Linked DNA regions of Homo sapiens: region 2 is linked to region 1. A link means that fine-mapping ties the variant in region 1 to the expression of a gene that starts in the linked region. Tissue or cell type: lung. Region 1 holds a variant in brackets; the other region holds the start of a gene. Each region is shown on its reference strand, or each on the opposite one.

Region 1 (5,387 bases):
GGTGGCTGAGAGAATGCTAAGAGTGTCACAGTCTGTGATTTCTGCAACGTCAAGGCTTATTATGGAGGAAAAGTAAGACTTACAGTAAATAGGTGTTTCTACGTAGAGTAATGCATTAACTAGATATCTTGGAGGCATTCCCAGACTTGGGGTTAATCAGGAGTGACATGGCAGATTAGCATCTAAAACAGTCACTTTTTTCCCTATAACCCAGATGCTCTGGCAATAATCCCTGTCAAGGTGTCTTGGCCATCTGGGGAGTTGGGATGGTGCCCTAGTGCCATCAGTACAGGATGTAGCTTGCTTCACATGAAATCACCGCAAGCGGAGCTCATTATAACTCCTTTAACAGGCACAATTGGAGTTTCCTTTTATACAACAAGAGATGAATTGTTTGTAGTTGTCTGATTCTCTAAAGATTTCATCATCACTAGCTTCATAATTGGCTGTCACAGGGTGCTATATAATACATTAATGGCTGATAGTTCTAATTTGTTACTTATTTAAATTTGATTTTTTGTTGTTGTTGTTTTATGGACTCTAATCTTCAGGAAGAGTTCCAAATTCTAAATATGCTGACTCACCGCAGAATGTACTAACTGGAAAGAAAACAAAGGGAATCAAACTGCCAATGTTTTATTTTTCAACTATTTTCATTCAATGAATATTGACAAAGGTCTTTGCTATCATTAGTTATTATGATCTTCAAATATGCACATTACTAATATCTGTCCTGCTTGGAAGGCTCTGCCCTACTTGCCTCTAATTATACTCAAATACCTGATATGTCCCTTCTGTTCAGGTATTGCTTCATTTTGTTTTAGTTTTAAAGGAGGCTGCATTATAACCAAAATTTAAGAGATGTCTTAGATTGCACTGGCCTCATGGAATAATTTTCCCTGTGGAGTGATGACTTGCTAGGTCCTTAAGAGGAAACAGCAGTTGGCAGCTGGCACTAGAATAAGGCTTGTCCCTTCCAAAACTCTGCAGGCTACTGTGGTCTATCAGTGTCTCCCATGCTGGAGTCACTGAGGTTGGCCATGTCTCTGTGAGACGACTCTGTGCTTCAGTCTTCATCCACTTTCAATCTTCTCTCCCTCTCTATGATCAGAGGATCTGAACAGTTAACTCCATCTGCTCATTCACGTAGTTCCATCTCTTGAGGACCTGCCACTGTTGCAGTCAATGTTTTAAACATCTCTATTCTCCTTCCAAGATATCAGACTGCTCCTCTTTTTTTCAACTTCTTTGTGTTGTGATGTATTCTGTTTTTTTTTGTTTTGTTTTGTTTGTTTGTTTTTAAACAAATGAGAGTCCTATGTCTGGTGCAGTCTCCTCTTAGGGGAATCAGAACATGGAAACTTCTAAACATAAGAACAGATGAGCTCCTGCATTCTTTACCAGTTCTTTGGGTCATAAGTATGGGGGAAGGCCTCCTTCCATTTACTGCATTTTGTGGCCTGACTGGACATCAGTGGGTCTGGACCCCCCACAGCTCATGAATCACCTGGCAGGAGGGGTCAAAACAAGGTCATATTCACACTCTTGCTTCCAAGGCTCTAAAAACTTAGCTGTCTCCAGCTAGTGCTGCATGGTTAGCCCTTGCCAAGTCTCCATGGGAACTGGAGTGCTTCTCCATGCTCCCTGTGGCCCTTCTCAGGTAAACTAGATGCACCTCAGCTGGGTTGGGAGTGTAGGGGGAAGTAATGTTTGGCACTACAGAGGGACCTGAATGGGTGGGGCATCTCAGCACTCACTGCCCTCCAACTTCACTCTCTGTCCTGGTCCTCCAGACCCACTGCTTGATTCCTGACTACTGTAGAACACATAACTGGTTAATAACTCCAGGATATGATGCAAGATATGGCTATAGAGATTTCCAGGGCAAGGTGACAGTTTGGAGCCAAGTCATAAAACTTTTACAACAACCTGAATATAATTTTTTTAAAGCATTGAAAAAAATGAAAGAGGTTATAACATTTGAAAGACATTATGGAGGGTAGAGCAAGGTGGCTGAATGGAGGGCACCATCGATGGTCCCACCCTCTCGGTAGGAACATCAAGTTTGACAACTGTCTATGCAAAGGGAGCATCTTCATAGGAACCAAAAATCTTGTGAACACTCACAGTGTCTGATTTTAACTCTATATCACTAAAAGAGGCACTGGAGAGGGTAGGAAAGACAGTCTTGAATTGCCATCCCCACCCTGCCTCCATCCCTAGCAGCAGCCACATGGCATGGAGAATCTGTGCACTTGGGAGAGGGAGAGTACAGTACGTGTGAGACTTTGCCTTAAATTCATGGCTGCCCTCTGACAGCAGAAAGCAGCACAGGGCTGTACTCAGCTGTGCCTGCCCATAGAGGGAGCATTTGAACCAGCCCTAGCCAGAGGGAAATGTCCTATCCCAGTGATGGGAGATTGAGTTCCAGCAAACCTCCCCACCATGGACTAAAGGGCTCTGGGAC[G/C]CTAAATAAACTTGAAAGGCAGCCTAGGCCACAAGGACTGTAATTTCTAAGCAACTCCTAGTGCTGAGCTGGGTTCAGAGGCAGCGAACAGGAAGGGGGCGTGTGACCTACTGAGACACCAGCAACAAAGGTTAAAGGAGTACTTGCAACACTTCTCCCGTAACCCCAGGAAGCACAGTTCAGAACTCCAAATGAGACCCTTCCTTCTGCTTAAAGAAAGGAGAGGGAAGATGTATTACTTTGTTTTCATGCTGCTAATAAAGACATACCTGAAACTAGGAACAAAAGGTTTAATTGGACTTACAGTTAGTTCCACATGGCTGGGGAGGCCTCAGAATCACGGCAGGAGGTGAAAGGCACTTCTTGCATGGTGCTGGCAAGAGAAAAATGAGGAATTAGCAAAAGGAGAAACCCTTGATAAACCCATCAGATCTCATGAGACTTATTCACTATCACGAGAACACCATGGGAAAGACCGACCCCCATGATTCAATTACCTCCCCGTTGGTCACTCCTAAATTTCTCCATCCTCCCCTCTAGAGGACAGAAGAAGACTGCAAACAATACAATTTTTTGTAATTTGTCTAAGGCCCTGGTCAACTCCCAGTCTGAAAGCAGCAAATCCAGATGTTGAGTGTGTAGCTGGAGGAAAAGACTCAAGAGGCCCCTGTGCAGTTGTAGGCTCTCCCTCCCTGCTACCTCAGCAATTCACACACACTTCCTAGTGAAATAACTCCAGAATATATGGTGTCAATTATAGGAATGCCTCTCAATCTCTACCAAAATTGATACATTTGAATAAATAGACCTCGCCAGCTCTCAGGGAACAGTAATGCTATTCTTTCACATTCCTTAGCTTCTATGGGAATTCTTCCTTTTTCTAACTGGGCAGGGGTTTTACTGTTGAGTGGAAGAACTGGAAAGATCATTATTCAAAATGACAGTGAGAAAATGTTTTAATTTGTTAATGTTTGAACTCTGATATTAGGATTAAATCTGTGAAATTAAGATTGTACTGCTGGTTTAATGCACCATTAAACATGAGGTTTCTGTGAATAGTATTAAGTTCCAATACAAAACGGCAGCCCTACCTGTGCCCTGGAGTCCCAATGTATGAGGATGGGGTGATCCTGGGGAGTAGACTGTTCTGCACAGTAGGGTGGGCAGATATTACATCTCTGTGTCCCTATCACTGCGAATCCCAAGGAGTCCATGCCTTGACTGTACCTGGAAACTCATTCTCTTTGTAATAGACCAGGGATAAGGAACAAACTTGGACAACATTAGCGTCTCTTCTCGCCAATAAGTAGCTTTTTTGCAGCACAAAGAGAAATCTCCAGAACTGGTAGGATTTCTCCATAGATCAGAAACCTGCCCTCCAGTCTTGGTTGCTGCTCTTGTTACACTTGGTCCCAGGGGACTGTCTTTTTTATTTAACTTCTGCTTTCTACTTTTACTTTTCTGCTATTTAGGGAAACCATGAAGCCAGAACCACAACAGAACAGAAAGCAGCTCTGTGTGAATGGGCAGAAGGATAAAGGGAGTGAATGATCAAGGAAACCCTGGTGATATGAGACTGCATCCTGGAATGCTGAGAGCCAGGGAAGGAATGTACCAGGTGCCAGAATCAGTCAATAAACATCATGTGTCTTCTGCAGTTCAAACTAGATGCTTCTTCTCCTATCTCAGGAAAAGGAGCAGCCACCATTCCCTGACTGCATATAAATAGGACACATCTTTGAAATGAGGATTGACAATTTTTCAGCCTCTCTAGAATTCTCATTTTCTTAATCTCCTTCCATTGGAGGTCCGTTACTAAAATATAGGACATAGTTCCTAAGAATTTTATAAAAAGACAAATAATATTACCATCTACAGCTGTATGAAGAAAAATAGGAAAATACCTACCATAGTTTAACTCCTTATTCGATAAAAGATATTATCGTAGGTGCTTTAAAATGCATGTGTTCCTTTAATACTCACAACTATATAAATATTTTGAAACCATTTTATTTATGAGAAAACTAAGGCTCTATGAGAAAACTAAGGCTCAAAGAGATTAAGCAGAATGATCAACAATACACCTACCTCCCAGCAGAATGAAATTTCAGTATCAAATTCTTTAATGTAATTGATGGGTGATTTTGTCAGTTTTGTATTCCAGATTTCTGTCATAATTGCTAAATCTCCTTTTATTCATGAATTATACATAACTCTTCCTTGCTCTCTGAATATGCGTGGTTCATGTATTTTCACTTGATGTTGACCAGTTTTTTTCTTTACCTTACGTATTGAGAAAGAAAGTCTCTGATTGTTTCCCACTTTTATTTTGTGAAGGATGTTTGTCAGTCTTTATGTCCATAGTAATTCGGTTCTTTCTGGATTGATCTAAGACTACAATATTCATGAAATCAGGAAGAATTACCAAAGTGTAACATAAAAGAATTCTTATATCTAGCACTACAAGAAATTAAGATGGATTGTAAAGGTGCAGAAGAACTGTAGTAAACCAGTGTGACAATGATGCAAGTTAACAACAAATAAGGCCAATACTTCCAGGTGTCATTATATTATCATCATTAATTATTTCGGTGAAGGATCGAATTAGTTATCTCTTACTCCCTAACAGATGAACAGAAACTAGGTAGCTTACTGATAGCCAAAGTAGTATTAATTAAAACAATAATAAATTATAATTGTAAATAATATATCATGATTTAAAATAATATATTAAGTATATTAATATGATTTGCTAGTACATCAGTTACATGAAATCTATCCAGAAAAATATTAATAAAGGAAATACTATGCACAGAAAAAGTAACTCACATTCTTTCCCCCATCACATCCTATTTTTTTGCCCTCTTCAGAGTCACTAACTTCTCTTATTTATACTTCCAGCCACTACAGTATGGTTTGT
Region 2 (5,387 bases), not on the chromosome of region 1:
CACTGATAAAAGAAACTGAAGGTGACACAAGCAAATGGAAAGACATCCCATGCTCATGGATTGGAAGAATTAATATTGTTAAAATAACCATACTACCCAAAGCAATCTACAGAATCAATGCAATCCTTATAAATACCAGTGACATTTTTTTTCACAGAAATAGAAAAAACAATCCTAAAATTTGTATGGAAACACAAAAGATCTCAAATAGCCAAATAGTACTGAGGAAAAAGAACAAAGCTAGAGGCATCATGCTACGTGACTTCAAAATATACTACAAAGCTATAGTAACCAAAGCAGCATGGGATTGGTATAAAAACAGACATATAGACCAAAGGAACAGAATCGAGAACCCAGAAACAAATCCACAAATTTACAGCCAACTGATTGAGAAAGCACCATGAACACACATTAGGGAAAGGATACTCTCTTCAATAAATGGTGTTGGGAAAACTGGATATCCATATGTAGAAGAATGAAACTAGGCCCCCGTCTGTCATCTTATAAAAAATTAACTAAAAATGGGTTAAAGAGTTAAACATAAGGCCTGAAATGATAAAATTAATAGAATAAAGCAGAAGAGTAATGCTTCATGATATTGGTCTATGCAAGTATTTTGTGGCTAAGACTTCAAAAGCACAGGCAACAAAAACAAAAAATAGACAATTGGGACTATATTAAATGAAAAAGCTTCTGCACATCAAAGGGAACAATCAAGAGTGAAAAGACAAGCTGTAGAATGGGAGAAAATATTTGGAAACTATTTTTCCAACAAGGGTTTAATATCCAGAATATACAAGGAACGTGAACAACTCAACAGCAAAGAAAACAACCCATCCCATTAAAAAGCAGCCAAAGGGCCTAAATAGACATTTCTCAAAAGAAGACATACAAAATGGCCAATGGGTATATGAAAAAATGCTTGACATCACTAATCACTAGGGAAATGCAAATCAAAACCACAATGAGATACCATCTCACCCCAGTTAGAATAGCTATTATCAAAAAGACAAAAAATAAACGCTAGCAAGGATTTGGAGTAAAGGGAATCTTACACACTGTTGGTGGGAATGTAAATTAGCACAGTCATTACGGAAAACAGTATGGAGGTTTCTAAAAAAAATAAAAATGGCACTGCCATTCAATCCAGCAATCCCACTACTAGGTATTTATCCAAAAAAGGGATAACTGCACCCTCATGTTTATTGCAGCACTATTCACAAAAGCCAAGATATGGAATCAACCAACGTATCCATCAGCAGCTGAATGGATAAAGACAATGTAGTATATATACACAATAGAATACTATTCAGACACAAAAAGAATGGAATTCTGTCATTTGCAGCAATGTGCATGGAACTAGAGGTCATTATGTTAAATGAAATAAGTCAGGCATAGAAAGACAATATTGCATGTGTTTATGTGGAAGTTAAAAAAAGTTGATCTCATGGAGGTAGAGAGTAGGATCATAGTTACCAGAGGCTGGGAAGTAGAGGAGGAAATGAAGAGAAGTTGGTTAATGGATACAAACATACAGTTAGATAGAAGGGATAAATTCTAGTGTTTGATAGCACAATGGGGTGACTATAGTTAACAATAATTTATTATATATTTCAAAATAGTTAGAAGAGAAGATCTGAACTGTTCTCAACACAAATAAATGATCAATGTTTGAGGTGATGGATATCCTAACTACCCTGATCATTTCACATTGTATCCATGTGTCCAAATATCACATGTACCCCATATAAATATGCACAATTATGTAAAAATAAAAAAACACAGTAGAATGGACAAATGTGGAATATTCACATAATGGAATTGACACAACAATGAAAAGATAAACAACTGTACCCCACAACATAAATTTCATAAACATCATAGGTCAGAGAAACCACGCACTAAAGCACACAGAGCCCATGATGCCATTTATGTAGGGTTCACCCATGCATCCTGGTTTACATTCCCAGCTTTCACACCAAGAGTCCCACATCCCAGGAAACACCCCAATCTTGGATGAACTGGGATAGTTGGTCACCCTATAATTGTAAAACGTTTAAAAACAGGCAAAACGTGTCTATGCTGTTAGAAGTCAGGAGATTGCCTACCTGGGTTTGGAGGTGCTGACTGGATCGGGGGCCCAGGGCTCTGGGGGGCTGAGAATGTTTTGTTTCTGGATCTGGGTGGGGGTTACACAGTTACATTGTTTGTGGCTACCTATCAAGCTGGACACTTTGATCTGGGCACTTTTTCTGTTTTACTTCCATGAGGAAAAAAAAATTGAGAGGCAGGATAGTGTAGTGGTTAAACATGCATGCCCTCAAGCCAATTACCCAGGCTTAAAATCCCAGTTCTGACAATAGCTATTAACCAAACTTGCCTTAGCTTGCTGGCCTGGGCCAGGGCTGGGGACACCACGTGTCTAGATTTCTTTATTGAGGCACTAGCGGATGTGTGCAAGGGGTAGAGACCAAAAAGTGTGGCAGCAGCAGAGAAGGGACGTCAGCAGCTCAGGAGGCTAAGAGGATAGTATTGGGCCATCAGGACCCCCACGCCCCCAATTCTAGGGTCCTGGCATCTCCCCAGTCCCCCTTCCTCCCCAGAGGTCCAGAATTTTCAGCCTCAGTCCTGAGATTTGTGTCCACAAAACCAAATATTTCTAACTGATAAAAGCCACTCCTTCTTGCTGCGGAGAAACCACAAGGCAACCTGGGTAGTTTGAACAAAGTTCTCTAGCCTCCCTAAGTTTACTCCTCTGTACTGTGGAGAGGATAGAAGAAAATCGCAGTGAGTAATCACAGTGAATTCACTGAGCACTGCCAGTCTTTTGCTAAGAACATGATGTGCTCAAGCCTTACGATACTCTGAAGTGGGTATTATGCCTCTCCCCATTTTACAGAGTCAGAGACTGAGGCACAGAGAGGTTAAGTAGCCTGCCCAGTGTCACACAGCTCTGGAGCAAGCGCCTGCTCCAGAGCCTGAGACTCCTACACCACATCCCACCCAAGTGTGGGCCTCGCACATAATAGGCACCCAGCACCCAGTAGCTCGGCCTTGCTGCCGCCGTGGAATCTCCTGCCTCCCAGAGACCCAACCTCAGCCCTGGACTCACTATGGCCACTCCCTGCACCAGGGGGAACTGTTCGGGTTCCTGCAGGACGTCACAGATGGTGTTCACCATCTCGTCGATCAGTGTCTGACATTCTTCGTAGGGCTTCAGGTATTCCTGGATAAACCAACCCAGCTTCTGAGCAGGCACCGAGGACAGCTGGGACTCCCCATTTCCCATTGCTCTCAGCTGGCTGCCGGCAAGACAGTGAATGGTAGGATGGGAGGCAGAGGAATTCTTGCTGCTGCCCAGAGCCAGGAAACTGAAACTGAAGTCTAGAGGCCTCTCTCCACCCACTGCAGCGAGCTTACCAACTCTTGTATCCGGGACAGGGAAACAAAACTAACTTAAGCTCAGAGGCTCTGCCCTGCCCCTTGCAGTGAGTTTACCAACTCCTGCATCCGGGGCAGGGAAACCAAAACTAACTTAAGCTCAAATGCTCTTCCCCGCCCCTTGCAGCAAGGTTTACTGACTCCTGCACCCCAGCAGGGAAACCAAAACTGACTCAAGCTCAGAGGCTTTCCCTGTCCCCGGCAGCGTGGTGACCAGCCCTTCAGGGGCTCCCCAAAACTTGAGGTTAACTAAACAGCCTCTAGAACCCCATTGTGAGGGCTTCATACCTGCTAGATGTCTGTCCTTGAGCACATCGCCTGCCCTCTTCGCGCCTCAATTCCCCCATCTGTAAGCTGGGGGAAAATGGCAGCTCTCTCGTAGGATTAGCTTGATGATTAAATAATACCTGCAAAGTGCTTAGAAGCAGGGGCGCACAGGTCATCTTTTGAGGCTCTGTCCCTTTCCCCCTGTTCTCAGTGGCCAGGGAACTCACATTCAGGGAAAGCGGCAGAGAGGAAAAAGAGACCCAGAGAGGGAACTGACTTGCTCAGGGACACACAGCAAAGCAGGGACCTAGCTGGACTCAGGTTTTGGTCTGCTTCTGGGTAAACACAGGCCCCCGTGTGGTCAGCGGGTGGGAACCTCTGTGTGTCCAGTTTCTCAGCACACTTGTGGACAGCCGAGGGACCGTATGAGGCACTTGTCCAGCCTCGCAAGGGCAAGAAAACACACCCCAAGTGTGTGAGCCAGAAAGGAGACAGACATGCAACTCCTGTGCCCAGAGCTTTGAAAACAAAACTCGCAGAGGACTCCCAGCCAGCTGCCTTGGCCCAGCAATAATAATTCACAGAGAAGGCAAAAATCTCCAAGATGTAGTGGGGGACCAGGGCCCTTCCATACTGGGATGGTTAATTTTATGTGTCAAGTTGGCTGAGCCCAGGTACCCAGATATTTGGTCAAACATTATCCTAGATCTTTTTGTGAAGGTATTTTTTAAAGATAAGATTAACATTTACATTGGTAGACTTTTTTTTTGAGTAAAGTGGATTATCATCTGTAAGGTGGTGGGCCTGATTCAATCAGTTGAAGGCCTTAATAGACTAAAGACTGAGCTCCCCCAAGGAAGAGGGAATTCGGCTGCAGTGCCTTGGCCTCCACTTGCAGCAGCAACTCCTTCCTGGGTCTCCCACCTGCCAGTCTACCCTGCCGATTTTGGATTTGCCAGCCTCCACAATCACATGAGCCAATTCCTTAAAATAAATACCTCAAAATAAATATAAATACCCTGTTAGTTCTGGAAAAACCTCGATTAATGCACATGCTCATTAAGGGCCTTTCCTGCCCTTATCCAACTTTTACTGCAACACCGAGAGGTAGGCAGGCTGGGCAGGCGTAGTCCTAAGGTTCCTTTTTCAGATGAGAACATGGAGGCTCACAAAGGTGGAAACATTTGCCCGTGATCACACAGCTAGGAAGTTGTCAGGCTAGGTTCTCACACTAACACACTGCCTGACTCCAAAGCCTGTGCTTTATTTGTTATTTAAAAAAACACTTTATTTTGAAGTAATTTGAAATGCTGAGAAAATTTACAAGATGCACACAAAGAACTTCCTTAGACTTTTTAGCCATTATATTTTTTACCACATTTGCCCCTCATTTTCTTGCTATTTATACATTTTAGGAGGTTTTTGTTTTGTTTTGTTTTTGAGACAGAGTCTCACTCTGTCACCCAGGCTGGAGTGCAGTGGCGTGATTATAGCTCACTGTAGCCTCACCCTCCCAAGCTCAAGCAATCTTCCTACTTCAGCCTCCTGAGTAGCTGGGACTATAGGCATGCACCACCATGCCTGGCTAAATTTTTAAAATTTTTTGGTAGAAATGGGGGTCATGATGTCACCATGTTGCCCAGGCTGGGCTCGAACTCCTGGCCTCAAGCGATCTTCCC

What was found. PIP is the estimated chance that this variant, and not a neighbour inherited with it, causes the effect.
Region 2: it holds the start of OAS2, and the variant in region 1 is the best candidate, but not a certain one, in a credible set for the expression of OAS2 in lung (TOPMed, PIP 0.81).

What each region holds. Positions count from the first base shown.
Region 1 is chr9:21,410,885-21,416,271 of GRCh38, reverse strand. No RefSeq gene overlaps it. Among named protein-coding and RNA genes, the nearest start is that of IFNA8, 4.5 kb to the right of the region's middle. The variant G/C (reference allele first, on the strand shown) is at 2,468.
Region 2 is chr12:112,976,511-112,981,897 of GRCh38, reverse strand. OAS2 (2'-5'-oligoadenylate synthetase 2) reads right to left here and starts at 3,379. Exons shown (of 10, transcript NM_002535.3): 1 at 3,113-3,379. The coding sequence starts at 3,289. RefSeq lists enhancers at 2,215-2,364, 2,475-2,554, 2,725-2,804, 3,025-3,834.